Homo sapiens: one gene and its partners. The protein of the gene in region 1 interacts with the protein of each later gene in a biochemical or structural test. Each region holds a gene or a part of one and is shown in the gene's direction. Other genes may lie near its edges.

Evidence for each region.
Region 2: the proteins of MET (region 1) and BLK form a complex in vitro, tested with the Homo sapiens proteins (one large-scale study listed by BioGRID and IntAct).
Region 3: the proteins of MET (region 1) and FES form a complex in vitro, tested with the Homo sapiens proteins (one large-scale study listed by BioGRID and IntAct).
Region 4: the proteins of MET (region 1) and FGR form a complex in vitro, tested with the Homo sapiens proteins (one large-scale study listed by BioGRID and IntAct).
Region 5: of the proteins of MET (region 1) and PTPRC, one has a biochemical effect on the other in vitro, tested with the Homo sapiens proteins (one large-scale study listed by IntAct).
Region 6: of the proteins of MET (region 1) and PTPRG, one has a biochemical effect on the other in vitro, tested with the Homo sapiens proteins (one large-scale study listed by IntAct).
Region 7: of the proteins of MET (region 1) and PTPRK, one has a biochemical effect on the other in vitro, tested with the Homo sapiens proteins (one large-scale study listed by IntAct).

The regions. Positions count from the first base shown.
Region 1 is NC_000007.14:116,699,696-116,703,921, forward strand, and holds part of MET (hepatocyte growth factor receptor isoform b preproprotein), read left to right. Parts: coding exon 1-589; intron 590-4,226. UniProt on the Homo sapiens protein: Receptor tyrosine kinase that transduces signals from the extracellular matrix into the cytoplasm by binding to hepatocyte growth factor/HGF ligand. Regulates many physiological processes including proliferation, scattering, morphogenesis and survival.
Region 2 is NC_000008.11:11,500,161-11,504,386, forward strand, and holds part of BLK (tyrosine-protein kinase Blk), read left to right. Parts: intron 1-4,226. UniProt on the Homo sapiens protein: Non-receptor tyrosine kinase involved in B-lymphocyte development, differentiation and signaling. B-cell receptor (BCR) signaling requires a tight regulation of several protein tyrosine kinases and phosphatases, and associated coreceptors.
Region 3 is NC_000015.10:90,890,613-90,894,838, forward strand, and holds part of FES (tyrosine-protein kinase Fes/Fps), read left to right. Parts: intron 1-369; coding exon 370-579; intron 580-941; coding exon 942-1,064; intron 1,065-1,445; coding exon 1,446-1,499; intron 1,500-2,094; coding exon 2,095-2,213; intron 2,214-2,487; coding exon 2,488-2,582; intron 2,583-2,678; coding exon 2,679-2,802; intron 2,803-3,041; coding exon 3,042-3,199; intron 3,200-3,323; coding exon 3,324-3,446; intron 3,447-4,226. UniProt on the Homo sapiens protein: Tyrosine-protein kinase that acts downstream of cell surface receptors and plays a role in the regulation of the actin cytoskeleton, microtubule assembly, cell attachment and cell spreading.
Region 4 is NC_000001.11:27,617,941-27,622,166, reverse strand, and holds part of FGR (tyrosine-protein kinase Fgr), read left to right. Parts: intron 1-509; coding exon 510-608; intron 609-4,226. UniProt on the Homo sapiens protein: Non-receptor tyrosine-protein kinase that transmits signals from cell surface receptors devoid of kinase activity and contributes to the regulation of immune responses, including neutrophil, monocyte, macrophage and mast cell functions, cytoskeleton remodeling in response to extracellular stimuli, phagocytosis, cell adhesion and migration.
Region 5 is NC_000001.11:198,711,613-198,715,838, forward strand, and holds part of PTPRC (receptor-type tyrosine-protein phosphatase C isoform 1 precursor), read left to right. Parts: intron 1-1,340; coding exon 1,341-1,460; intron 1,461-4,226. UniProt on the Homo sapiens protein: Protein tyrosine-protein phosphatase required for T-cell activation through the antigen receptor. Acts as a positive regulator of T-cell coactivation upon binding to DPP4.
Region 6 is NC_000003.12:62,292,571-62,295,339, forward strand, and holds part of PTPRG (receptor-type tyrosine-protein phosphatase gamma isoform 1 precursor), read left to right. Parts: intron 1-43; exon of another isoform or gene 44-147; intron 148-590; coding exon 591-737; 3' UTR 738-2,769.
Region 7 is NC_000006.12:128,510,292-128,514,517, reverse strand, and holds part of PTPRK (receptor-type tyrosine-protein phosphatase kappa isoform b precursor), read left to right. Parts: intron 1-4,226. UniProt on the Homo sapiens protein: Regulation of processes involving cell contact and adhesion such as growth control, tumor invasion, and metastasis. Negative regulator of EGFR signaling pathway. Forms complexes with beta-catenin and gamma-catenin/plakoglobin.

The DNA.
Region 1 (4,226 bases):
TTATTTCCCAGATCATCCATTGCATTCGATATCAGTGAGAAGGCTAAAGGAAACGAAAGATGGTTTTATGTTTTTGACGGACCAGTCCTACATTGATGTTTTACCTGAGTTCAGAGATTCTTACCCCATTAAGTATGTCCATGCCTTTGAAAGCAACAATTTTATTTACTTCTTGACGGTCCAAAGGGAAACTCTAGATGCTCAGACTTTTCACACAAGAATAATCAGGTTCTGTTCCATAAACTCTGGATTGCATTCCTACATGGAAATGCCTCTGGAGTGTATTCTCACAGAAAAGAGAAAAAAGAGATCCACAAAGAAGGAAGTGTTTAATATACTTCAGGCTGCGTATGTCAGCAAGCCTGGGGCCCAGCTTGCTAGACAAATAGGAGCCAGCCTGAATGATGACATTCTTTTCGGGGTGTTCGCACAAAGCAAGCCAGATTCTGCCGAACCAATGGATCGATCTGCCATGTGTGCATTCCCTATCAAATATGTCAACGACTTCTTCAACAAGATCGTCAACAAAAACAATGTGAGATGTCTCCAGCATTTTTACGGACCCAATCATGAGCACTGCTTTAATAGGGTAAGTCACATCAGTTCCCCACTTATAAACTGTGAGGTATAAATTAGAAATAAGTATCAGTCTCAAAAAGAATATCCAGGGCTTCTTTTGTGCTTTGTAAATGGTGTTTATCCAAAATAGTTGCAGATTTTTTCCAAGAAAATTGAGGAATTGAATCTTCATTTACACCTAAAATTATATCTTTAAAATGTAAATGGTAACTAAAAGAAAAATGTTTTTACAATTCAGATTTGCATGTTCGTGACATTTCAGATTATATTAAAGTTATTTCCCATATAAGCTTTTTTATATTTACACAGATTTTATCAGATTTACACAGATTTTATCAGATTTACACAGATTTTTATCACAGCAGCAATTCCCATAAAACATAATTATTGACATTTCTATATAATCTCTGCAACATTTACAAGATGTTCAAGCTAATTTGTATGCCTTAAAGAATTGTTCCTTATGAGATTATATTCTCTCACTGATACACAACTGATTAATCTATATTCTTGACATTACTTAAAGGAACTTAACTTTAAAAAACCTCTTCTGAAATGCTGGTAAATAAAACATTTTTAAATGAGCTCGTATACTTCTCTAAATAACCTGTAAGAGTAGAGAGGAAATGTTTGTTCCCAAGTCCTTCCTTTAGAGCTTGACTTTAATCATGGACTTCCTTCTGGAAAAGACTTGTGTCTACCAAGTTCTAGCTTGGCACTTTACCTGGTTGGTATTTGTTATTTATAAGCATAAATATTTTGGTTGATGATTATTTATACTTATATGAAATGGTATTTTCTTAGGAGCTGTTAGAGATATTCTTGGTGCTGTGATTTAAATATAGTAACAGCTACCAGCTATACCTGGAGATTTATCCTGCTAGTCAGTTGATCACCTGGTCTGAGTGTTTATTGTGGCTTTGAGTTTCTTGATCTGGGCCAGATTTGGAATACGGACCTGACTATGACCATCATTGAATGAACAAATAGTATAGCTTTTCTAAAGACAGTTTGACTTTGGCATGGTATGTTTCACTTACTTTAACAGGTTTCAATCTAAGATATAAAGGTTATAATTGCAATCAGGTAGAACATTAAACATGTCCTCAGTAGCATAAAGTATATAATTTGCTGAGGGGTAAAGGCATATGAATTCAGAGACATTTGGTTGACTTTTGCTGAAATGTCTGGGACACTTCTCTAGATGGAAACTATAGTTAACTTTTTATGATGCTAGGAAAATACTTCCAAGAAAGTCAGTTCATCTTTTGGTGAACTAAAAACAAAACTTCCTTCCTCTCTCTTCCAAAGTCTATGAATATACATAACATAAATGCACATACATTCCAACTAAGACTTATTTCCCCCTACATACATTTAATATATGTTGCAAAGAAGCAATAGAATTCCTTATGAAGCTCCCCCTTTTCTTTACTAGAAACTACAAAAGAATGAAAGGAAACAAAATGATTTTCAGAAACCTGGGATTAGGAAATAAAAATATAATATTAATAGCATTACAGAGAAGATATTTTTCTGCATCCAGTAAGTTGATTCTGAGACACAAGTTTTAAAAGAGTCTATTAGGAATTCCTCCAGGGCTCCTAGAGCACATGGATTTGCTATTTAAATCTTTCTTTGTTAAAAATTAAAAAGAAGGGTAGGGCAAGAAAAAAATTAAAAAGAGAATTCATAAAGGTATATTGATATCTCATTTTTTAAATTTTGTACATTTCAATCCTTAGATGTAAAAATACTTATCAATTCTAGAAATTCTCAAAACACATCTGAATTTTATCCTACCCTTTTGACTTTTTTAGTGTTCCAAGGGAGACAAACAGACAGGATTAGCCAATGAAATTCAGGTCAGTTTTATCGCCCAGGAAAAATTCCCAAAATGCACTAGCCACACCTGAAACCATTATCACTCCCATCACAAAAATTCTTGCGGGAAACAAGATGGAACTTGCCAACATAGTCTTCTTACAAAGGAAGCCAACTTTTACACTGGCCAAATTCCATAGACAAATACCTTCAAACCTCCTCTATTTATTTGCCTGTTTATCTTCTCTGGTTACAAAGATCAAAATTCTTCTGAGACTGAGACTACACATATTCTCTCTCTCCATATACCCCATCCAGACCTCAGATTGTTCCAATAATGAGCATATAATCATTTCCTAGCTTAATGCCAAAATGAAGGCACCTAGAGCCATTCATCACACACAAAAAAAACAAAATGATTACAAGATCAAAGCTGTTTAGCAGGACTCTCAAGCAATAAGATGACTCCATTTTGTCTTGGCAGATTTACTTGGCCAGAAATCAAGTGACCCTTTTAATAATTTCTTGGAACTGAGTTTTTACTTTGGCATCAAGTTTGGTGAAAAGACACACATATTGTAGTTTTGTTATTAACATCTCTAATACATTTATAAAGGGACTCTTGTGGACAAGGTTAAGAAAGCTGAGCTGCAGCAGTAACTTTCTACTTATGCTTCTGCCCAGTCCTCAGTGTTGACACATTGCTGAAAGAGGGATTTCCTGGCACTCCAAGAGCTCTCCACCATGTGCAAAAAGTGTTTCTATCACAAGATCAGATAATGGGAGTGCCAGGGACGGGCCTTTTACATTTTAGGGGTCCAGCAGGTGTACCAGGCCTGACTTGCTTGTTTAGGATCACATATTTTGTTGCTTTTCCCAGTCTCACATTTCATGAAATATGTCTATGCAAACTCTTCACATGCATCTTCTCATATTGATGACATCACAAAAGCCCTCTTTTGAGTCATTTGATAATTCCCAGTACTCGTCATCTTCACCCATAAGCTATTTGTGCTTCAGAACTCTTTGTCTCCACATATGATGCTGTTTCTGGAAACTTATCCCAAGCCACAAATGCCCACTTATAGAATACCAGTGTTGTTGACTATGTCAGTTGTTCTATAAGAATATATTCTTGATCCTCACAATGTGTCCATTTTTTATGTTGCTTTTGAAAGTGATTCTAAAGAATTTGTTTACAGTGACTTCCAATATTGAGTACTATGAGATTATACACCCACAAATAATTACTAAATCTGTTTAATATCTTTACCTCCTCCTTTACCCATTCATCAATCAACCTCTATAAGCATCCTAAATTAGTATTGATTGAAGTTGTTTTAGGCTAATGCATATTCTCTAAATAGCATATTATTATTCAAAATAAAATAATTGAGAAAATTGTCCCATAATATGGATGGAACCTTTGTAAAGGCCCATATGTAGGGAGAAAAAACCCTCATCTCTATTTGAGGATAAGCAGTAGCAAAAATTTCATTAACTTGTTTAAAATTAAGTGGAATTTAATTTTAAGACTGTGGAATCTCTAACAGTCTTTTACATATAAGGGATTGATTAATGTGACAATTTCAGGAAAAAAAGGAGAATCAGTACACATTGGCCCAATCTCCTACAAATGAGAATCAATACAGAATAAGAGAATTTTTTAAATCCCCAAATCAGCAAAGATCCTGTTCCCTAAGTTATAGAATATTTATTAAAACAAGTGAAATCGTACATTTTAGAAAAAATTTTAATCAAAGTTGAAATTAGAAAAGCATTCTTGAAATAGCTCTCGCCTCTCAGAAAATACAATTAGCACA
Region 2 (4,226 bases), on another chromosome or scaffold:
TATTCCACCTTAGATTGATTTGGGGGGTGTTTGTTTTTGTTGTTGTTGTTTGAGACAAGGTCTCACTCTGTTGCCCAGGCTGGAGTGCAATGGTTTGATCTCAGCTCACTACATCCTCCGCCTCCCGGGTTCAAGCAACTCTCCCACCTCAGCCTCCCGAGTAGCTAGGACTACAGGTGTGCACCACCACGCCCTGCTAATTTTTGTATTTTTTTGATAGAGACAGGGTTTCATCATGTTGGCCAGGCTGGTCTCAAACTCTGGACCTCAAGTGATCTGCCTGCCTTGGCCTCCCAAAGTGTTGGGATTACAAGCATAAACCACTGCACCTGGCCTGTTTTTTTGTTTTGTTTTATTTTGTTTTTGTTTGTTTGAGATAGGGTCTCGCTCTGCCTCCCAGGCTGGAGTGCAGTGGTGTAATCATGGCTCACTGCAGCCTCCACTTCCCCAGCTCAGGCAATCCTCCCACCTCAGCCTCCCAAGTAGTTGGGACCACAGGTGTGCACCACCACGCCTGGCTAATTTTGGTTTTTGTAGAGATGGGTTTTTACCATGTTGTCTAGGCTGGTCTCAACCTCCTGAGCTCAAGCAATCTGCCTGCCTCAGCCTCCCAAAGTGCTGGGATTACAGGCATGAGTGACCATGCCTGGCTCTACCTTTTATGTTAAAGTTTATATAAATTATTTCATTTTAAGATTCTTTTATTCCTGCCATTTCTGTGGTGCAATTGGATTTTTACATAAAGTTAAATAATACTTTTTATTTTGGCCAGGCGTGGTGGCTCACACCTGTAATCCCAGCACTTTGGGAGGCCAAGGTGGGAGGATTGCTTGAGGTCAGGGGTTCGAGACCAGCCTGGCCAACATGGTGAAACCCCATCTCTACCAAAAATACAAAAATTAGCTGGGCATGGTGGCAGGCACCTGTAATCCCAGCTACTCAGAAGGCTGAGGCAGGAGAATTGCTTGAACCCAGGAGATCTCAGCAGTGAGCTGAGACTGCCGCTGCACTCCAGCTTGGACGACAGAGTGAAAAAAATTAAAAATTAAATGATACTTTTAATTTTATTTACTATTTTATTTGAATAAATAAAAGGATCCTTTAAAAAGTATTACACACGAAAATAGGGTCAAAAGTCATAGCCCATTTTCTTGATTTTATTTGGTGCTTTATGGGAAAGGCTAAACTCTCTCTCTTTTTTTTTTTTTTAACACATTAGCATGGAAAGGAATCATTTCTACTTTGTGGTGTCTGTCTGTCTGTCTATCTGATGGGCTCTCTGGCACCTGCCAGCACACTGGGGGAAGTGTGAGGTCAAGATAGGCATCTTGTAGATGAAGAGCATGGCGTCCTGGTAAACGTTTAACAACCAGCTTTCCAGGAAACAAATGTATTGTATACATACATAAGTTTATAGTAACATGTACTGATATAAAGGATGCGTAGCACTTAATTTACAAATAATAACAAAATATGCAATAGTCTCTGTCCTAAATACCGCAGAGGTGATTGAGTCTCATAGAAAGCTCTCGTGACTTTGCACTGTCATATCCGTAGCCAAGCATTGGTTGCAGCAGATGAGCAAGTGTGGTGTTGGCACAAACACTGAAATGTTCATTCATGTTAAGGAGCAGATCAAAGTGAAACAACAAAGAGTTGGGGCAGGCTGCAGCCTTAGTGCCATGAGCGGCTTCTTTGTTGAACTGGGTAGTAGTTTTTCAATATTCAGAAAAGTTTCCTCAATGTTTTGTGCTACTCACAGTGTTCTAGCTACAGACAAGATGCTCTTTTAAGCATAGAAAATCCATGAAACAAATCACTGCCGACCTGTAGCATTTGCCTGTTCCTGTTGTATAAATACTCCCACCAGGGCCAATTTCAAGTTGCTAACATGACTTGCGTGAACATGGGTTCGAGATGCGCAGCAGCACAGCACGATAGAGTACTTCCGCCTTATAGACACAGTCAGTTAAAGAACCTCAAAGCATAGCTATTATTAAGATGCAGTAAAAATAATCAGGAAGTGATGAGGTTTAAGTATTTATAACCTTTGTTTTAATAGAATCCATTTAGTTGTATCTTGTATAATTCAACTTTAATTTTTTATCATTTTAATTTTATATAGTTTTTTTTTCTTTTTCTTTCTTTTTTATTTTTCTTTGAGAAGGAGTCTTACTCTGTTGCCCAGGCTGCAGTGCAGTGGCACGATCTCTGGTCACTGCAACTTCCACCTCCTGGGTTTAAGGGATTCTCCTGCCTCATCCTCCCAATTAGCTGGGATTACAGGCACCCGCCACCATGCCTGGCTAATTTTTGTATTTTAAGTAGAGTTAGCCAGGCTGGTCTTGAACTCCTGACCTCAAGTGATCTGCCCAGTTCGGCCTCCCAAACTGCTGGGATTACAGACATGAGCCACCACGCCCGGCCCGTATAGTTTTTATACCTTAATCTTGCATAATGATTTGAATAATTCAGCTCACAAAATTCCTGAGAATTTAACAACCGGCTCTAGCATACCGGCACAAGCTGGCCCCCAGTGCATCACTGACGGGGAGGCCGAGTGTCTTGAGGCCACACTGCAGATCAGGGTCCTGCCTGCAGCCAAGTGGGGACAAGTGGAGAATAACTTGCCTCCTGGGCTCTCCTGAGTCCCGAGCCTGACAGCGGAGGCCCAGGTGGGTGACCCTGCTTTGTGCTCGGTGGCAGGGGAAGGGGGGTGGGCCTGTGGGCCTGGATGGAGAACCTGTCCCCATGGCTGTCATGTCCCTACACCAGCTGCTGCCAGCCACTGTGGGGTTCGCAAGTCCCCACTCGCAAAACGGCTACTGTTTTCCACAACCATGGGATACAAGGATGTCCCCTTGGGCTCCTTCTCATCTCTACTCTCTGCTGGCCTCTTTGCACAGATTGATACCTGGGATGCTGAGCCAGGACCAGAGGGAGGTAAAGACACACCTGGGGTGCAAAACTGAAGGAGGCCCTGATGCTTGAGGTTGTTCAAGTGCAGAGAATGTTTGTGTATGTGTGAAGCACACAACCACACGTAGCATCTAAAAGGACATTTGATGTTCTGCACTTAATAGATTAAGCTGGTTCTGACCTTCTAGCCCCTGGGCTTCTGATGAGTCTCCTGGTAGCCTGTCAGCTCCTGATCTTGGATGGGAGCTTGTGTGTAGGTGGGCACTCTTCTGCAAAGTGCGTTTATGGCTTTTATCTGGTTTCCTCTGATCAGAAAGATCTGGGGGTGCTGGCACACCCAGACGACTAGTAACTCCCAAAGGGAGAGGTGCAGCTTTGTCACCTGCCCCTGTGTCAGGTGGGACGTGAGATGCTCTATTTTTTTCTGCTCCATCCTGTGCCCAAGCCTTATACAGGGTGACCCTTTTCAGAGAGGCCTTTGCCACCAGGTCAGTGTGAGCATGTGGCTGGGTGATTTCCTGCCGTGGACCAGGGATCTGTGTGCTGTCTGAAGTAAGCAAGGGTGCTCTTTCTTGGCAAGGTCTGAGGGCTGAGACTTGCAAGGAGACACCTGCTCTCTTGGTCACCAGACTGGAGGTTCCTATGTGCAGGTGTGGAGGATGGAAGAGGTCACTCTGTCCTCTTTCTTGCCTGGGCCTCACCTCTGCTGAGGCTGCTGGCTGCCCTGGGCTCGCAGTGAAAGGGGCCATCTTCCACCCTCCCCTGCTGGTCAAGTGCATCTTTCCAGGTTCCGGCACTCCACGTTGCCACCCAGACAAGTGTCCTGTGGGAACTAGCAAGTGGGAATCAAAACTACCCCCAGAGAGGCTCCTGGCCGGGAGATGAAGGGATCTACCCTGGGGCTAAAGTCTCCCCAGCCTTTCTTGGAGCTTAGGTCCTGGCTTTAGAAAGATCCCATTCACATCCAGGCACAGTGGCACACACCTGTAATCTCAGTACTTTGGGAGGCCGAGGCAGGCGGATCACTTGAGGTCAGGAGTTTGAGACTGGTCTGGCCAACATGGCGAAACTGTCTCTACTCAAAATGCAAAAATTAGCTGGGTGTGGTGGTGTGCGACTGTAATCCCAGCTACTCAGGAGGCTGAGGTAGGAGAATTGCTTGAACCCAAGGAGGCAAAGGTTGCAGTGAGCTGAGATCGCACCATTGCACTCCAGCTTGAGCAACAGAGCGAGATTCCATCTCAAAATAAAGAAAGGAAGGGAGGAAGGAAGGAAGGAAGGAAGGAAGAAAGAAAAGAAAAGAAAAG
Region 3 (4,226 bases), on another chromosome or scaffold:
TGCAGATGTCCCCAGACCCTGCCCCTGTGACCCCTCCCTTTCCATCGCCCCAGTGTGCTAAAGGGACCAGCAACCTCGACTATTCCATGGCTCTCCCTGCTTCAGGAGCGGGTTGGGGGCCTGTGGCCTGGAGGAGGAGGCACCAGCTTGGTTTGGGGTCTTCCTGCCTGGGCTTCCCTTCCCAGCTCTGCCCAGCGTGAGCCTGGGCCAGTCCAGTGCCCACTCCAGGGGCCTGTGGATGGCTCTGCATGCCACTCCATGGTTGTAAGGGCTGAGGGCATATAGGGGGGAGAGAGAGACCCCCGGCTGCCCCCACGGCCTCTTCAACAAGGTGGTTAAGTGACTCCTCCTCGATCCTCCCTTGCCCAGCTCCCTCCACCGCTGCAGCTCATTCCGGAGGTGCAGAAGCCCCTGCATGAGCAGCTGTGGTACCACGGGGCCATCCCGAGGGCAGAGGTGGCTGAGCTGCTGGTGCACTCTGGGGACTTCCTGGTGCGGGAGAGCCAGGGCAAGCAGGAGTACGTGCTGTCGGTGCTGTGGGATGGTCTGCCCCGGCACTTCATCATCCAGTCCTTGGATGTGAGTGGGGCTGGGACCCGAGCCTTCCAGGCCTCACTCTTCCCCTCCCTTCCCTTCCCCAAGGGAAATGGCCTTTCAGGGTAGGGGGTAGCTGCCAGGTCTTGGATGCCTCCCTAGCAGGGCTGGCTGGAAGGGGCCACAGAGACCACCCTGTCCCTGCAACAAAATAGAGGCTTAAGTGTGAGTCCTCCCCTGGTGGGGCAGCAGGATGTCATGTGCCATCAGATGGCATCTTTTCTGGAGGTCTCTCTGCCCCTGGTCCTGGGCAGGCCCTTTCTCCCCTGCTGCTCTCCCTTTCCCCCTCCCAGGGCTCACGCCCCCTCAGAATGGAGGCTGCTGACCCCGGGTCCCCTGCCCTGCAGAACCTGTACCGACTGGAAGGGGAAGGCTTTCCTAGCATTCCTTTGCTCATCGACCACCTACTGAGCACCCAGCAGCCCCTCACCAAGAAGAGTGGTGTTGTCCTGCACAGGGCTGTGCCCAAGGTGAGCCTGCACCCAGCCTGGCCCATGCCACCTGTGGCAGGGCTTGGGGAGTGTGGGTCAGGCCCACCCAGCGTCTGAGCAGAAAGGGCTTTCCAGGCCCTCCGTCTACATACAAGATGCAGAGTGAGTGACCCTCAGGGCCAGCCTTGCTCTAGGTTTGGAATGTCAGGGCCACTCCTATGCCATGGGCTGTACACACCAGGTTGGTGCTTACCTGGTCAGGGCACCTGCCTGGACCCCGTAGTCATCTCAGTGTGCTCCCCACGTGGTCCCACCCCTGGTCACATATGGAGGCGCCAAAAAATGGAGGACACAGCCCTTCTAAGGGCCCAGCACCCCTTTTCTTCAGACTTCTGATCCCCTGTCTCCTCTCTTCCCCAGGACAAGTGGGTGCTGAACCATGAGGACCTGGTGTTGGGTGAGCAGATTGGACGGGTGAGTGCGCCTCTGCTGGCCTCCTTGTCGCTGGCGACTTCTCCTGAGTCGCGCCTGGGCCCCCTGCCCTACCACCCAGAGACCTCCCTGCCCCATCTGATTCCCCACTTGTACCCCGACTCCCTGCCCAGCCCCCACCACACACCATCCTCCAGGAAACGGGACAGTACCTACCCTGAAAACTCCCAGCAGACAGCTCTGCCAGCACCCTGACCTCATCACCCCCACCCAGGCCGCCCCCATCGAGCTCTTGTGTGCACGCAGGGAGACACCCTGTTACTGTAAGCCATAAGATACCTGTTTAGGGAAGAAGTCACTGTCCTAAAAATCAGAATGCTTTTCAAACCCAAGGGAGAGTGATTTTTGGATTTCCATGTCACTTCTCTCAGGAAGGGTGGCACATCGGAGGCAACTTTCCCTGCCTGCCCCATGTGCTCTCTAGGTTCCCCAGCGAGGGTCAAACTCCCAGAGAGCCTGGGTGAGGGGTCCGAACACGGGGGCCCCTCACCCAGGGGTAGGAAGCAGAATGGGTAGGAAGCGGAGAAGAGAACTGCGGGACTGGGAAGGCCGTGGTAGGAGCCCAAGACCGTTTCAGGGGAACTTTGGCGAAGTGTTCAGCGGACGCCTGCGAGCCGACAACACCCTGGTGGCGGTGAAGTCTTGTCGAGAGACGCTCCCACCTGACCTCAAGGCCAAGTTTCTACAGGAAGCGAGGTGGGTGATAAACTAATGATCACCACGGGTCCCGCATACACAGAGGTTACACTGCATGGCACAGTGTGAAGTGCTTGACCACCGTGGTGGTGTTTAGTCCTCGAGGCCCCCCATTGCGGGTAGTACCCCCTTATAGTGCCGAAGGGTAGAGGCTGCCCCAGGTCACACGTCCGGGTCTGCTGGCCTTGGAGGCCAAGCTCTTCTCCCATCATCCCTGGGGGGCCCTGGGGAGGCGGGCCTGGCCACGTAGATCCTGAGCAGCAGTGCCCTCCAGGATCCTGAAGCAGTACAGCCACCCCAACATCGTGCGTCTCATTGGTGTCTGCACCCAGAAGCAGCCCATCTACATCGTCATGGAGCTTGTGCAGGGTGAGCGCGGGGCGCTGAGCTCCAGGTAGGGCGCGCAGCCTGGTCAGGTGGCAGCCTTACCTCAGGAGGCTCAGCAGGGGTCCTCCCCACCTGCAGGGGGCGACTTCCTGACCTTCCTCCGCACGGAGGGGGCCCGCCTGCGGGTGAAGACTCTGCTGCAGATGGTGGGGGATGCAGCTGCTGGCATGGAGTACCTGGAGAGCAAGTGCTGCATCCACCGGTGAGTGGGCGGTGGCCACGGGCCCTGCCAACACCCCCGACCAGAGTCAAGAGGTACCTATACCCCTAGGGCCCCCCGCTGGACCATCAGGCATCAGCTCCAGAGGGGGAGTTGGCCTCTGTGGTAGACAGGGGTGCCCAGGGCCGGGAGCAGCTTTTGTCCTTGGCTTTCCTAGAGTGTTCAGCCAGGGCTGGGCAGGCGACTGTTGGCCAAATGAGCCCCTGCCCTGTCTCACCCAGGGACCTGGCTGCTCGGAACTGCCTGGTGACAGAGAAGAATGTCCTGAAGATCAGTGACTTTGGGATGTCCCGAGAGGAAGCCGATGGGGTCTATGCAGCCTCAGGGGGCCTCAGACAAGTCCCCGTGAAGTGGACCGCACCTGAGGCCCTTAACTACGGTACCTAGTCCCTGTCTACCCTGGACTCCATGGCCAGAGGCCAGGCCTGGGTCCTGCCGGCTGCCTCGCCCTGGCCCCAGGGAGGGTGCACTCACGCTGCCTCACCTCCTCGCCTCCTCTGCAGGCCGCTACTCCTCCGAAAGCGACGTGTGGAGCTTTGGCATCTTGCTCTGGGAGACCTTCAGCCTGGGGGCCTCCCCCTATCCCAACCTCAGCAATCAGCAGACACGGGAGTTTGTGGAGAAGGGTAAGCACCCTGTGATGACAGCAGCCTCAGGCTGCACCCTCTTCCAGATGCTCCAGCCGGACTCTTCTAACTCCCTTAATGCCAACCTTCCCACCAGGCAGAATAAGAATAACCTGGCCAGTTGCTCACGCCTGTCATCCCAGCACTTTGGGAGGCTGAGCTGGGTGGATCACTTGAGCCCAGGAGTTCAAGATCAGCTTGGACAACACAGTGAAACTCCATCTGTACAAAAAATACAAAAATAGACTGGGCACGGTGGCTCACACCTGTAATCCCAGCACTTTGGGAGGCCGAGGCAGGTGGATCACCTGTGGTCAGGAGTTTGAGACCAGCCAGACCAACATGGTGAAACCCCATCTCTACTAAAAATACAAAAATTAGCCAGGCATGGTGGCACGTGCCTGTAATCCCAGCTACTTGGGAGGCTGAGGTGGGAGAATTGCTTGAACCCAGGAGGCGGAGGCTGCAGTGAGCCGAGATTGTGCCACTGCACTCCAGCCTGGGCGACAAGAGTGAAACTCCATCTCAAAAAAAACCAAAAAACAAAAAATACAAAAATTAGCTGGGTGTGGTGACATGCGCCTGTAGTCCCTGCTACTCGGGAGGCTGAGGTGGGAGGATCACTGGAGCCCGGGAGGTGGAGGTTGCAGTGAGCTGAGATCATGCCACTGCACCCCAACCTGGGTGACAGAGAGAGAGAGAGACCTTGACTCGAAAAAGAAAAAAACCTGGGCGCAGTGGCTCACGCCTGTAATTTCAACATTTTGGGAGGCTGAGGAA
Region 4 (4,226 bases), on another chromosome or scaffold:
TAATTTTTTGTATTTTCAGTAAAGATAGGGTTTCACCATGTTGGCCAGGATGGTCTCGAACTCCTGACCTCAGGAGATCTGCCTGCCTGGGCCTCCCAAACTGCTGGAATTACAGGCATGAGCCACCACACCTGGTCTCTGTCAGGCTTTTTAAGCCACATTGAGAAGTCTAGATTTTATCCAGAAGGAAATCAGTAGCCATTTTCTGTGGGGAAGTGACCTAGTCAGCTGTCCTCTGAATTCCCAATCCCCAGCCCAACCCAGCTGGGGAGCCCAAGGAAGAAGCTAAGAGCCCTAAGTGCCCCCGAGCTTATTCCTTCTGCAGGGACAAGCCCTCCCAGGGAAGCTGCAGTGGCTGGGGCAGAGCGGACAAAAGCCCCAGTGGTGGGGGGTGTCCAAGATGAGGGTTTGGCAGGATTCATCTCTGCAGACCTGTGTGGCTCCACCTGGCCTCAGGGTGCCTTGGGGGCTGGAGGTGCTGCTGACCATGCCCTGTTCTGTGCCTACAGTGAAGGTGACTGGTGGGAGGCTCGGTCTCTCAGCTCCGGAAAAACTGGCTGCATTCCCAGCAACTACGTGGCCCCTGTTGACTCAATCCAAGCTGAAGAGTAAGTAGGGATTGGGGCAAGACCAGCCCTATGGACAGGACCCTGGAGTCCAGACTCCAAGGCCACCTCTTGGACAAGTCATTGCTCCAGTCCGAGCCTGTCTCCTTATCTAATAATTTTGTAAGGTCATTGTGAGAACAAAAGAAGATTGTACTGATAATAATAATAGTAGATAATAGAGCATGTACTATGTTCTGGGCACTATTCAAAGTACTGTCTGTGTATTAACGGGGTTAGAAATTACTACTATCCTATTTCACAAATGAGGAAGTTGAGGCACAGAGAAAGTAAATATCCTGTGCAAGTTCACATGGCTAGTGAGTGGTGGAGCTGATGTATGAACCCAGATAGTTGGGCTGCATTTGCTAAGCATTACACATATTGCCTCCCAGTAAAAACAACAGTGTATGAGCTTTAAAAAATTGTAAAGTGCTGAAAAAGTGCAAGGGAGCATTACTAGGAATTAATTCTATTAAGGAGGCAAGAATTTTTCTTTTTCTTTTTCTTTTTGTTTTTCTTTTCTTTTCTTTCTTTCTTTCTTTTTTTTTTTTTTTTTTTTTTTTTTTTGAGACAGGGTCCTACTCTGTTGCCTAGGCTAGAGTGTAGTGTAGTGGCACAATCTCGGCTCACCGCAGCTTTGACCTCCCTGGCTCAGATGATTCTTTCACCATGCCTGGCTAATATTTTTTTTTTTAAGTAGAGATGGTGTTTCGCCATATTGCCCAGGCTGGTCTTGAACTCCTGAGCTCAAGCCATCCGCCCATCTTGGCCTCCCAAAGTTCAGGGATTACAGCCATGAGCCACCGAGACCTGGCCCAAGAGGCAGGAATTTATCATTCATTGAATACCTTTATATACTTGAGCAAGTATACTACAGCAAGTATTTATCTCCTTGGTTCACTTAATTCTCACAATAACACCGTTATATTATTAGTTTTTTAAGAGACAGGGGCGTGCTCTGATGCCCAGGCTGGGGTACAGTGACATGATTTTAGCTTACTACAGCCTCAAACTCCTGAGCTCAAGTGATCCTCCCACCTCAGCCTCCTGAGTAGCTGATACTACCGGTGTGTGCCACCATGCCTGGCTAATTTTTGTATATTTTTTTATAGAAGCAGAATCTTGCTATGTTGCTCAGGCTGGTCTCAAACTTCTGAGCTCAAGCAGTCCTCTCACCTTGGCTTCCCAAAGTGCTGGGATTTCAGGCATGAGTCACCATGCCTGGCCTTGATATTATTATTTTAGACAGAGTCTTGCTCTGTTGCCCAGGTTGGAGGGCAGTGGCGTAATCTTGGCTCACTGCAACCTCCACCTCCTGAGTTCAAGCAATTCTCCTGCCTCAGCCTTCCAAGTACCTGGGACTACAGGTGCACGCCACCACACCTGGCTAATTTTTATAATTTTAGTAGAGACGGGGTTTCACGATGTTGGCCAGGCTGGTCTCAAACTCCTGACCTCAAGTGATCTTCCTGCCTCAGACTCCCAAAGTGCTGAGATTACAGGCATGAGCCACCGTGTCCGGCCCCTTGATATTATTATTGTTCCCATTTTACAGATGAGGAAACTGAGGCTCAAAAAGCTTTTAAAAATCTATCCTCACAAATGTCATACATATATGAGAAAAGAAGGGATTGAAGAGACTTTGCAGAGTGAGAATCCAGGACTCTGTGACTGATTTGGGTTATGGGGAGTGGGAGGAATCAAGGGTGGCTCAAAGTCTCCTTAAGGAGCTGGGTGGATGATGGCACCATTTGCTAAGGCGGGAAACACAGGAGCAGGTATAAGTTCATGAGTTCTAGGGGGTACTTGTTGGATTGTGGTTTGTGGAGAGGAACATCCAGGTGGACGAAGCTGCCAGCAATTCGATTAGGTTGTGCTTTGTATGGCAGGCAACCAGCCCATGCTAATCCATGCCCCTGAATCAGCCCAGAGGAAGGGACACCTTTTCTTAATTGCCACTAAAACTCCTCAGTTTGTTTGCTGTGGCCCTTGCAGAGGGCACAACGGGCTAGGGCAGAAATTTGGGACTCATGAGAGTAAAGATGATCATTAAGGCTATATAGGAGGGGGCTGGGGGCGGTGACACATGCATGTAATCCCAGCACTTTGGGAGGCCGAGGCGGGCGGATCACATGAGGTCAGGAGTTCAAGACCAGCCTGGCCAATGTGGTGAAACCTTATCTCTACTAAAAATACAAAAATTAGCCGGGTGTAGTGGCAGGCACCTGTAGTTCCAGCTACTCAGAAGGCTGAGGCAAGAGAATCACTTGAACCTGGGAGGTGGAGGTTGCAGTGAGCTGAGATCGAGCCACTGCACTCCAGCCTGGGTGACAGAGCAAGACTCCGTCTCAAAAAAAATTAATTAATTAAAAATTTTTAAAAAAGCTATATAGACGGTTAAGGAAGAGAGTGGAGAGTGCAAAAGGTTGGCCCTAGGACCCCACTTTGGGGAAAGCTGCCCTCGAAGGAGAAGGAGCCATTGGAGAAGAGAGGAAATCCAGACCAGGCCAAGTCAGAACAACCGAGAGAGCGGAGAAGCTTCAGGAAACAAGAGAGGGCGTGTCAGAGGCTACCGCTGGATTTGGCAGTGGGGGTGACCTTGGTGAGAGATTTCTCTGTGTGAGGGTGGGAGGCGGAGGCCAGACAGCAGAGCCTGGGAGGGAGTGGGAGGTGAGGAAGTGGAGACCCAAGTGTGAAGCACTTTTTCAAGTGAAGGGAAGGCGAGAAGATACAGCAGAATGTTGACGGCAAGATGGAACTTAGAATAGTTTCCTTTGGGGAAGGGAGAAATGTGGGCATGTTTGGAGGTTGTTGGAATAGAGAGGCTGCATGCAGGTGGAGGCTGCTGGCAGGAAGTGGGTATCACTGAGCAGGAGCGGGTAGGCGAGGTTCAGAGGTCAAGTGCGGTGAGGCCCAAGTCTGGGGAGGTGGTAGGAGGCGTGAAGAAGAGGACGGACAATTATGCAGAGGACAGGAGGTTTGTGGGGAGCTTCATGCTTGTGTCCACATCTTGGAGCCAGTGTCACCAAGCACTGAGAGGTGCTCAGTGCAGTGTTGTGGTTACGGGTAGTGTGGTTAGGAGCACAGGCCCTAAAGCAGACAGCCTGGGTTCCTGTTCTAGCAACTGCTGCCCTGACTGTCTAATGGGGTTTAACAATAGTAGCTATCTCACAACATTGTTAGGAGAATTAAGTGAATACATACGTGTATTAAGGCAGACCCTAACACGAAATATGTGTGTTATTATTATAGTGATTATTAAGGAGGTAGCTAATGTCATGCGTGTGGGAGCGGGGAGGGCTTTGAAAAAACTTGACAATGTGTCCTGTCTATACAGTCCCTCAACACTTCCTCCGTCCCCCTCCTGCCTGCCCTCCTGGACACACCACTTGCCAATGCCTTCCCCTGTTTCCTGAACTGTGCCTAGTACCCAGGGGCGGACTGACCTTCCCAGGGTCCACTGAGACTTCCACCACCCTTGGTTTGAAAACACGAGGCTCCTTTAATTCAACCCAAGATGGCCACAGGCCAGTTTCATGATCATCTGAGTCTTCTATGGCACCTGTGGTCACTTCAGCTCCCCCATTGTACCTGCACAGTTGGTTTAGGGCTACGGTT
Region 5 (4,226 bases), on another chromosome or scaffold:
TGATGAATTGGAGTGCATAAAAATTGAATATTCCTGCTCTTTGGATGAGGCCACTAAGGAAATAAAAAAGCAATAAATAGTTTGTAAAAAATCAAAATTAATTTTTTCAACAACAGAAGTTTTTCCAGAATATACAGAGAGCTCTTTCAGCTGCAAAATAAGGACTAAAACAGCTCAATTGAAAATGGACAAACATTTTTAATATATACTTCACAAAAGAGGATACACAGGTGGTTAATAAGCACATTAAATGATGCTCAGCATCATTAGTTAACTGAGAAATACAAATTAAAACAACACTGAGATGATAATACTATACATCCATTAAAATGGCTAAACTTAAGAATACGGATACTACTAACTATTGGTCAGGATGTGCAGCCATGACCCAGGAATTTCACTCCAGGTATTTACCAAAGAGGAAACATGACAAAGCAGATGCATTCATAGTAGCCAAAACCTGGAAACAGCCCAAATGTGTATTCACTGTTGAATCCTAGGTAAAATGTGGTGTATCTTTACAATAACTACTGATAATTTTTTAAAATTCTAACTATGACACATGCAACTAAGTGAATGAATCTTCAGAACATTACATTGAGTGCAATATGTTAGGAGTGAAAAAGTACTTACTGTTTGTTTCATTTTATTTACATGCAATGGGTAAAAAGACAAACTTAATCTGTAGTTAACAGAAAGTTGATCAGAAGGTACGTGAGTCTGGTCAAAGGAGCTGAGTTGACTGGGAAGTACCACAGAAGGACATTTTGGGATCACAGAAATTTTCTTTATCTTGATTGTGGTGTTGGTTATGTGGATGTATACATTTGTTAAAAATGCATTAAACTGTATCTCAAATGGGTACATTTTAATGTAAATTTTACTTCAGACATTTTATTTAAACATTTATCAGTTTTTCTCAGTTTCAAATGACTAGTTACTGGAAGCAATGACAAGTGCTACTCAATGACTGCTAAATTTATTGGTGCTATGAATGCCAGATTTTTAGCACAGCAAAATCTACAAATTCCAGGATTTTTAGGTAGTATCTGGGCAAGAATATATATGAATAATGTATATGAAAGGAAGAGGGGGTTCTTAGATATCTTCAAGTCAGTGGAATGCTTAGGTTTCACAGTGCCAATCTGGTGTGACATTTACTTTGTTAAAGGAATTTACTCTAAAACAAATTAAATGAGCCCAGATGCATTTCTTTAAATTTTATTTTGAATTCATCATTTGTCAAAATATGGTTATCAATAATGCATGCTTATAATATGAAGAATGCTTTATCCATGTCTTATTTTTCATATTACATAACATTCTTATTCTTTTAACAGGTCCAGGAGAGCCTCAGATTATTTTTTGTAGAAGTGAAGCTGCACATCAAGGAGTAATTACCTGGAATCCCCCTCAAAGATCATTTCATAATTTTACCCTCTGTTATATAAAAGAGACAGGTAATTTGTGTAGAATTTAATTTCATCAGAAAAGAGAAATCAAGAATTTGAAAGTACTAGAAATTTTTATTGAGCCAGTGAGTCACAAAGCTCTCTGCTTAGAGACTGCATAGGCATAGTATACTCCCTGATCTTAGAATTGCTTCCACTCATTCAAAGCTTTCCAGCCCCAGAAATGACTAAAATCCAGAACATTCTAAATATTTGCTTGTCCTTCTTGGTCTTAGTTTAAATCTTTGTGCTCCAAAGCCTAGAGACAGAAAACCTCTGGATGACAACACTCATTTCTGTCTTGCAAGTATTATGTAAGTGATTTGACTCACTTTGAACTCATCATTCAGCCTCCTAAACAAACCAACAAACAAGCAAACCCCTTGTAAAACTTGTTTCAGCTAATAATACAGACAAAATGTTGGGTGAATAAAAATGAACATGGGCCCATGTAGCCGCTGGGGCCAGTTTGGTGTAATCTTGGGAGCATAGTTCTAAGTTTAGAATTAGACTTCTGCAGAAGTAATGCAATTAAAAAAAAAAAGAAGAAGAAAGAAATGTGCTATGACTAGTTCACTCATGAAATGTTCAAATGAGATGCTATTTAAGAGAACAAATATCTTCTGGACAATTTAAAGTATCTAAATTGTTTGTAGAAAGTAACATCAGTGGAGTATCTCAGAGCAGCCTCAATGCCTGGGATAGCCCTTTCTCTATTCTTTTATCCATAGGTTAAAATAGGAATGAAGTGAACCTCATAGAATTCTGTCACTCTGTGCTGTGGGGAAGGAACCAGACATACACTTCAAAACTTGAAAAGTGAAAGGCTATTTTTCTTCATTATGTTATTTTATATTTTAATGGCCTTTTCTTGCTAGTGTCTTTAGGTCTTAATAATCAGACTACTAAAGCAAAGTTAAATATGCATGTAGTTTTCAAATTAACATTCAAAGGCCAAGGAAAATAAATATATACTATATATTTGAGGTTATGATAAATTTAAAAGTTAAGTCTATGTGGAAGGAAAAATGGAAATTCCAGGAAGATAAAACAGCAGAGGTACTGTCTGCCTCATTGGACACCTCTTTTACAAACACTTTGTGTAGCTTCTATGGGAACACATTGTTCATTTTTTTTTTCTCTTCTCTGAATCTTCTATTCACTATCCCTTTCTGCATTCCTCAATGTCTACACTCTCTCTACTAGAGAGTATTGTCGATGTCAGAGTATATGGTAGACATTTTATGCATTTATGGCTCTTTTATATTTTTACAGTTTTTTTAAACTGTATTTCCACTGTATTTGCATAATTAGGGTAAAAAGGATGTAATGAGTTAGTAGCAACTCATTACAGCAACTAGCATGGGTCCTTCTTATTGGGCAACTAAATAGTGTTACCCAAATTTAACAGCTGTCCACATAGAACACTTAAACGGGATTGAATGGCTGAGAAGGGGAGGCTAGCTATCAGGCTGTGTGTTTTCTTTTCTCCAAAGCTGCCGATTGGTGACTGAATGCAGCTTTGGACCATGCCCTGACACTGCATAAAGGGCTCTTTGGAGCCAGCTCTACTCTAAACAGCGTGCTCCGCTTTTGTTTTCTCCTTCATCTCAAACATATACCTGTCTCCTCTCCCATGTTACCTAAGGCAAAGAGAGTTGATAGGATTATAGTATCGTTAAGGCAACTTAACTTTTCTCACCATTTTAAATAAAATTACTATTAAAAATCCACAGGAAGAAAGTCTATGAAATTTGCAGTTTACTTTTTAATCAGATATTAAATTTCACTTCATTACTTCACAATTTAATTTTTTCAGTGTCTCTAAAAGAGAGGGATTAAAAGAGGAGAAAAAATGCAATTGACATTAATTTAGTTTTATTGGTTTAGCAGGTTTTTTTAATTATGTATTATTTAAAGATTTTATCAACTATTTTAATAACTCAGTGGAGATGTGCATACATATCTTCATAGTTCATATGATGAAACTGAGGTTAACAGAAAATGTGATAGATGTTCAAGTTCAGTAGCTTGATCTGTTTCCTTTCTGCTCTTGGTTTTGTTTGTTTGTTTGTTTGAGAGGGAGTCTCCCTCTGTCGCCCAGGCTGGAGTGCAGTCATGCGATCTCGGCTCACTGCAAGCTCCGCCTCCCAGGTTCACGCCATTCTCCCGCCTCAGCCTCCCTAGTAGCTGGGACTACAGGCGCCCGCCACCACGCCCGGCTAATTTTTTTGTATTTTTAGTAGAGACGGGGTTTCACTGTGTTAGCCAGGATAGTCTGGATCTCCTGATCTCGTGTGATCCGATCCGCCCGCCTCGGCCTCCCAAAGTGTGTTTGTTTATTTTTCCTCACATTTTTAGCTTAAGATATTTTGGAGAACTGCAGTTTTATCTCGTTAACTTAATGATGGCAAGTGACAGTGAAGCTTCTTGGTAATTGGGGAATTGGGGAAGAGATCTTTTGTGCTTTATTGGATTTAAAGGATTATTTTTCAAAAGTTACTGAAAGCAATAGGCACCTTTCAAGACCACCATGATGTTGCTGGAAATTATTTTGTGTAATGCCTTTTATTTTTTTAAGAAAAAAAAAACAGAACAAATTGCTTAATCTCTCTGTGGCTCAGTTTTGTCATCTGTAAAATCAGATGATAGTGAGTACCAACTAATAGTTGCAGTGATGGTTAAATTAATTATTTCATGTATACCCCTTGAAACAGTGCTTGGCACATACAGTGAGTTATTATTTTTAAAAATCGTTATTGATATTATTATTAC
Region 6 (2,769 bases), on another chromosome or scaffold:
TATGTGTAAAACCTGTACTACATCAGTTGAAACTCAGACTCACAGTTTAGAGCAGTAGTTCTCAATTGGGGGTGATTTTGCCCCCCAGGGGACATTTGGCCATGTCTGGAGACTTTTTTGCTTGTCACAACTGCAGATGGATGGCATCTAGAGGATACAAGCCAGAGATGCTGCTAAGCAAACTACACAGCACAAGACAGCCCTCAACACCATAGAATTATGTGGCCCAAAATGTCAGTAGTGCTCAGGTTGAGAAGCCCTGCTTTAGAGGATAGTATTCTCTGGTTATCTTCATTAACCAGATATTAACCAGATATTGGTTATCTTCATTAACCAATAATGATTGTTCATTAACAATCAGCACTGAGAATTGGTTCCAAGCTAACAGAGATCAAAAGGACATGAAGAAGGTATAGGTCTTGACTATAATAAATTCAAATGATTTTTTTTTTAGTTTTTTTAGATAACATTTATGCTATTGCTGTTTCTCTAGTGTGTTTTTCACAATTACCATTTTAATTGGTATTTCCACCTTATGTGAAATCACTAAACTGTTCTTTGGCTCAAACTGTCTTCCTCTTGTTTTTCAGGAACAATACCAGTTCATCTATAAAGCAATGCTTAGCTTGGTCAGCACTAAAGAAAATGGAAATGGTCCCATGACAGTAGACAAAAATGGTGCTGTTCTTATTGCAGATGAATCAGACCCTGCTGAGAGCATGGAGTCCCTAGTGTGACTGGAATCCTGAAAGGGCACTTAATTTGTAAACTTCTGAAGACTGAGAACTTTTTTGAGGCCTTTTTTGCCAGACTCTAGGTTATACAATAACCCAGTTACTTTTTTACACTGATAAAAGTTTTGATATTTATTTTTTGCCATTTTATGTCTTAATGGTATCCTACTGAGCATTTGCACCTCTGTTCATTTCACACAGTGAAACGCAATTTTACCTAGTTTGCACTATATGATCAGTGTTACTGCCTATAATCTTATACAACAGCAAACCCTGATGTGACATTCCATGACGACATACATGCTACTTTTTTTTAGTTCAATACAGTGAAGGTCTTTGTTATGACAGTGAATATTGCTTTTATTATTATTATTGCTGAAGTGGTTGCATTCTACTAGCAGGCAATGCTGTACTTTTCTTCAGTCCTCCTCTCCTTTTTATTTTAGGCACTGTTCAATACTGTATGCCTTCTGTATTTTAATGGAGTGGATAGCATTGTTTTCTTTTACAGACTAGCAGGCTACTGGGACCTAAAAAGGTCTGTTAATGTCATGGCCTTGAAACAGTTCCATTTATGCTGGTTAAGAGATCCCTTAAGAAGTTAGAAGGCTTAAGAACTGCTTCATGTGAACATCCCTTATTAGTTACAAAGTTATATTCACAGTTTTTTAAAAATGTGTCAAAATAAAGGATAACTCTGTATTACAGCTTTCACAGTAGCTATGTGGACAATGTGTTATTTCCATTTTGACTCTCTAAAATAGCTACATCCTAAAATCAGGGCTATCTTTAACAATAGCAAGATAGCAATATTATATACAACTCAGTTATGAGACCCTTTAGTTATTCTCCATTAATGCTTCTTAGTTTGTAATACCATACCTCACAGTAGGTAGAAGAATGAAAACTTCTGCAGGTGTGTAATTTTGAAACTAGTCCTCTAAAAATTCCCTATTACTCCTATAGCAATCTAATAAAAACTACCTACATAGTTACTGTTTTCTTTCCTTCTTTGCCAAATGTTTTATAATAAATCTCTTAATTACATACATTTTTCTACTTAAGATTAAATTGGAAATACTGTCTTAGCAAAAGTCTTGGGACTATCTAAACTCCCACACATAGATAAATCTGATTTGGAGAGAGAAATTTAAAATATTTAATTAAAGGTGATACCCACATTTTCAAGTTTTTAAAAGAGGGAGATGGCTTTGTATGCTTTTGTGTAGTTTAGAACAGATACACATTAGTAAAAGATACCAATAATCATTAGAGCTCAAGGAAGTTATTAGGTGCAGCCTCTGGAGCCATACTCACGCTGCAGTGCATAATGGGAAAATTAGGAGCATTAATAAGAAATTTCAGTAGTGTTTGTAAGGAAAATAAGCTACTTACTGAGATCTGTTTCTTCTATTGCATGTTTGCTTTTGAGGGACAGCTTCTGTCAAAAGTGAAATCATCACCAGAACTGGGCCTGTTAGGAAGAATAGGGTTTTATTTACTTTTTATGTCAATTAACTTCAACAAAAAGGCCACGCTGGCTGCTGTCATGCCATCTGGGTATGCATTAAACATTAATGATGATCAGCACTGAGGTTCTATTTATCTTGATTTGGCTTTCATAAAGTTTGTCAGAATGGTGCTGGAGGACCAGAAGTGCTAAGGAGAAAGAAGCTATGGGCCAAGTTAAAGAATTTGAATGCAAAGGCCAGGTCAATGGAGTTTTCATAAACTACATAATTTACCAGGGTTTATCTCATCTTCTCAATACATAGATTTAACAACATGGAATACTCTGCTTTTCAAGAGCTGCGTAAGCTAGTCCTGAGATAAGATGTTCAAGAGAGCATGCTAAGTTGCATGTGCTAGATGAGAGACACCTTTACAGCCCCTCCGCTCCAACCAGAGGTGACACAGGAAGCTCTGTAAAGTTCAAGTAAAGCTTGAACACAGGAACACTACAACTGCCAGATGCTGAGGAGAATCAGGAAAGCAATGAGCTAGACTCTTTTTTTAGTCAATTAAGTGGGTTGTT
Region 7 (4,226 bases), on another chromosome or scaffold:
TTAATAAGGGGAATTCAGAAACAAGGCAAAATAAAATAGTGCGTAGTGGAGTTATTGTTTGTATTTATTTTGTTGGGAAATGTGAAAGATGTAAGTATGTAGTCCTCTGTGTGAATACACACACACACACACACACACACACACACATCTTAACAATGCTAGGACTTAGTTGTAGAAACATTTAGGTTAGAAAGAAGGTAAGGGCATCTAGAGATGGTATCAAAACTCCATACTTAACATTTTTGGAAAGAGTAGTGAAAATAGATCACTACTTTATTTCATAGATGTAGAAACAAGTGGAAAATAAGCTGTATATAATCTATACTGTATACTATACTATACTGTTATACTTTTAAGGATAAAATAATAAATCTTTCTCCAGATTGGTATCTATTAATATAAACCCTTCCCAGTGCAGCCTGTTCCTTAACCAGCTGCTCATAGGCCGATTCTCCAAGCGCTGTTCAAGGCAGCAGCTGACCAGCCACAGAAATTCCCTTAATCCGTGTTGGATAGTGGAGGTGACCTAGCAGCTGCTTAAGTGACAGACTGGCAACAGTTCCTTGATGTGATTTTTCTTAGGTCATTCAGTAAATTCAAGAGTAGAGAGGAAGGCTTTCTAGGGTCCTCACTACCCACCCAGGGATTGATGACTGATTGCTTCATGGTCATTGGATTCCTCACTGCAAGGTGTCCTGGGATTTTGTGGTTCATGGACCAATATAATTAGCATCATCTGGAAATTTGTGATGATCTGTGATCATCAGAGTCACCCCAGATCTACTGAATCAGAATCTGCATTTTGATGAAATCCCCAGGTGATTTGATGGAACATTTAATTCTGGGAAACACTGCTCTAGGACAAAGAAAGCTCAGTTTAAAAAGATTGTCACATGAACTTTACCATAGAATTTCAAGAATATTGCAAAAGGATTAATGATAACCTGAAATACATTTCCTTGGATTTATATTTCTTTTTCCTTTCTTTTTCTTTTTCTTTATTTCTTTCTTTCTTTCTTTCTTTTTTTTTTTTTGGAGATGGAGTCTTGCCCTGTCACCCAAGCTGGAGTGCAGTGGCACGATCTCGGCTCACTGAAACTTCTGCCTCCTGGGTTCAAGAGATTCTCCTGCTTCAGGCTTCCAAGTAGCTGGGATTACAGGTGCGCCACCATGCCCAGCTAATTTTTGTATTTTTAGTCAAGATGGGGTTTTACCATGTTGCCCAGGCTGGTCACGAACTCCTGAGCTGAAGTGATATTCCTGTTTTAGCCTTCTAAAATGCTGGGATTACAGGTGTGAGCCACCATGCCCGGCCCCTGGAGTATATTTCTGATCAATATTTACTTGATTATTATTTAATATTCCAGACACATCAAAACAACAGTACTATACAAGCTTTTTAAAAGAATGCTCAGATGACTTTGAAAAAAAATATTTTCATAAGAGACTAAAAGTAAGACTAGTTTTGGTTATGAATATTTTGTATAAGAATATTTAAAGATAAACATACTCTTCAAGGAACCAAACATGCTATATGCAAATCATTTTTAGCATAATGTTATGTTGATACAGGAAATACTATTCCCTCTGACATTACTAGTAGCAGTCTCTTGCTTTATAATTCTCTTTTTCATCTAAGTGTAATTTAAGATCTTTGTAGTAAGGAGCTCATTTATAGGACAGTCAAATTTAATGAATGGGAGTTGGTAGGTAGAATGCATTAAATATAACTGGTGTTCTTTTTATTATCTTTTGTGCTCATATTTAAGAACAGAGATTCTTGTCAGTTTTCTCAAGAGAAAAATTATGATGTAATAGACAGTGTACACTATTCATGTCAAAACACAATTTTACTTGCATTTTATAGCTTGCTTTAGCATTCTTTTAGAAAATGAATTTTCCCAGAAGACCTAATTGCCTTCTTATTAATGAGCCTGTAAGTGTTTTTTGTTATCCATTTACTATTCTAAATGTGTCTACTTGTGCTAGCTGTTTCAACAGTGTTGTCTCTGATTAAATCACAACTGCTATATTTGTTTTTGCCATTCACTAGTGATTCAGAAAATATTGGCATAATGACGTGGTTATGGCAGAGACTAATAAAAAACAAGAAGTAAAAATTAATGTTCACCCATTACAGTTGGCTGTATCATGAGATCAGAAGCTGGAGTTTGGGATAATAGCAACGTTCTCTATATTTTTGATACTGTAAATAAAAGTCTGCATAACCTATATTGTCTTAAATATAAAATATATAATTTATTGAATTAATGAACTGTAAATCAGTGTATTTCCATATGTACTTAATTTAGACACTAATGTTTAAAGAAAGATTTAATAGGAGACTGATCACTGTTAGAGGAGAAGTAGTGGTGGAGAGACTCTGAGAGGGCACTTTCGTATATCTTCAAGAACTTCACAGTTACTTTTTCTAGTTTGACTCCAAATTCTGGAACTTGTCTTTTTTACTAGTACTGCTTTTATTCTTATGAGCAATAATTAGGTTCATTTATTTTCTTATATGTTGGAGAAGAGAGCTTTTCCTAAAGCAATTGCAAAAATAACAATATGAGCTGTAATTTACTGAGAGCCCATGACCTGCTAGGGCCTGTGATCAGTGTTTTACATAATTTTAAATCCTCACAATATCCTTTAAGATGAGGATCATCTCCATTTTACAAACTAAGGCCTCGAGGGGTTAAGTAATAACTTGTCCCAAGTGGCTATATGAGTCACTGGTAGAGTCAAGATTCGTTAATGAATGTACACAAATGTTTAAAGATTAGACATTTCTTTGGTTGCATCTTGGCAGAAAATGTAACCCAGACTGGTTGCAACAAAAGGTGAATTTATTTGTCTCTCCTAACTACAGTTCAGGTGGAGCTTGATTTAGAAGTTGACGTAATTCCACTGAGACATGATGTTTCTCTGCCTGCTTAGTTTAGTTCTAGGGTATTCCAGGAGCTTCTTAGGCTCCATATAGAGGCACGATGGCTGTGGCAGCTCCCACCGAACAAGATCCCAGGTTCAAGTCCCTTAAGGAAATGTGAATTATCTGCTGGTTGCACCTGATAAGGCTCTAAGGTTTACAGTGCTTGAATCCACTGATCTTGTTTCCAACCATTGAATCTAAGGCTCTGACTGAGGGGAAGTTAGTGTGCTGATTGGCTTGGCCCAGGGTTTGTAATCTTTCTAATGGGGAAGAAAGAAGATGGGAGATGATGGGGAAGAGACAGTAGGATCAGATTGTTCTCTGTTGTGGACCACTAGGTGATCTCTAAGTGGGAAAGCGTGGAAGAGAAAGAGAGGAAAGAGGCAATTTGTGTCTGGCAGGCTTGTATACATTTACAGATCACCTGTTTTTAATCTGAGAGTGTTTATTTATTGGCTTTCCCTTTAAGGACTACTTTAAAGCATGAATTTATATTATTTCCATTATTTTATTTTCCTTGTCTCAGTATTGAATTAGTCTAACATTAAAAATTTGTAGAATTTGGTGTTAAAAAAGATCTTAGAAATTAATGACCCCTTCATTTGACGTAAGTTGCCCAAAGTCATACAGGTAGGAAGAACTTGAGCTCAAATTAAAGATTTTAATGTATAGGTTAGTGTTCTTACTATATATGTATCATATATTAATGTATACTATATATATATCATTTTCCTTAACAGTAATCTATATAATTATTATTTAAGATTAAAAAATTTTTGGCTTGTATTCCAAATTTCTGAAACAATATTTCCAAATATAAACCTGACTTAGTGATTGGATTTGATTAGAATAGTAGTCTGCATATAAGGTGATAATATGTCTGTGAATGCAAGAGACTATCTTAGATAACTGCTTGGTTTTCAGATATCATGACAGAATTTATACATGTATGCATGTATAGGTGTTTGCATGTATGCATTTATTTATTTTTAATAGAAAGCAAAGGGTAAAGTAAGCTGTGGTAAATGATATTGACACAGACAAAACCTACTAACTCTACTATTTTTGAAAACCTCAAGAGATGATGGTGATTTTATTTTTAATTTTGATCCTCTAACCTCTGCTGCCTAAATTTATTATGTATATCTGAGCAACATGGGATATTAGGAAGAGTTGCTATAAGAAATATCTTGGGGTACTGAATAATGAATAAAATGTAGAGAAGTAGCAGCTGTTTGCCTAGCTACCTCCTCTCCTAATGAGAGATTTACCCAGGCTGTCTTAATCACATGTT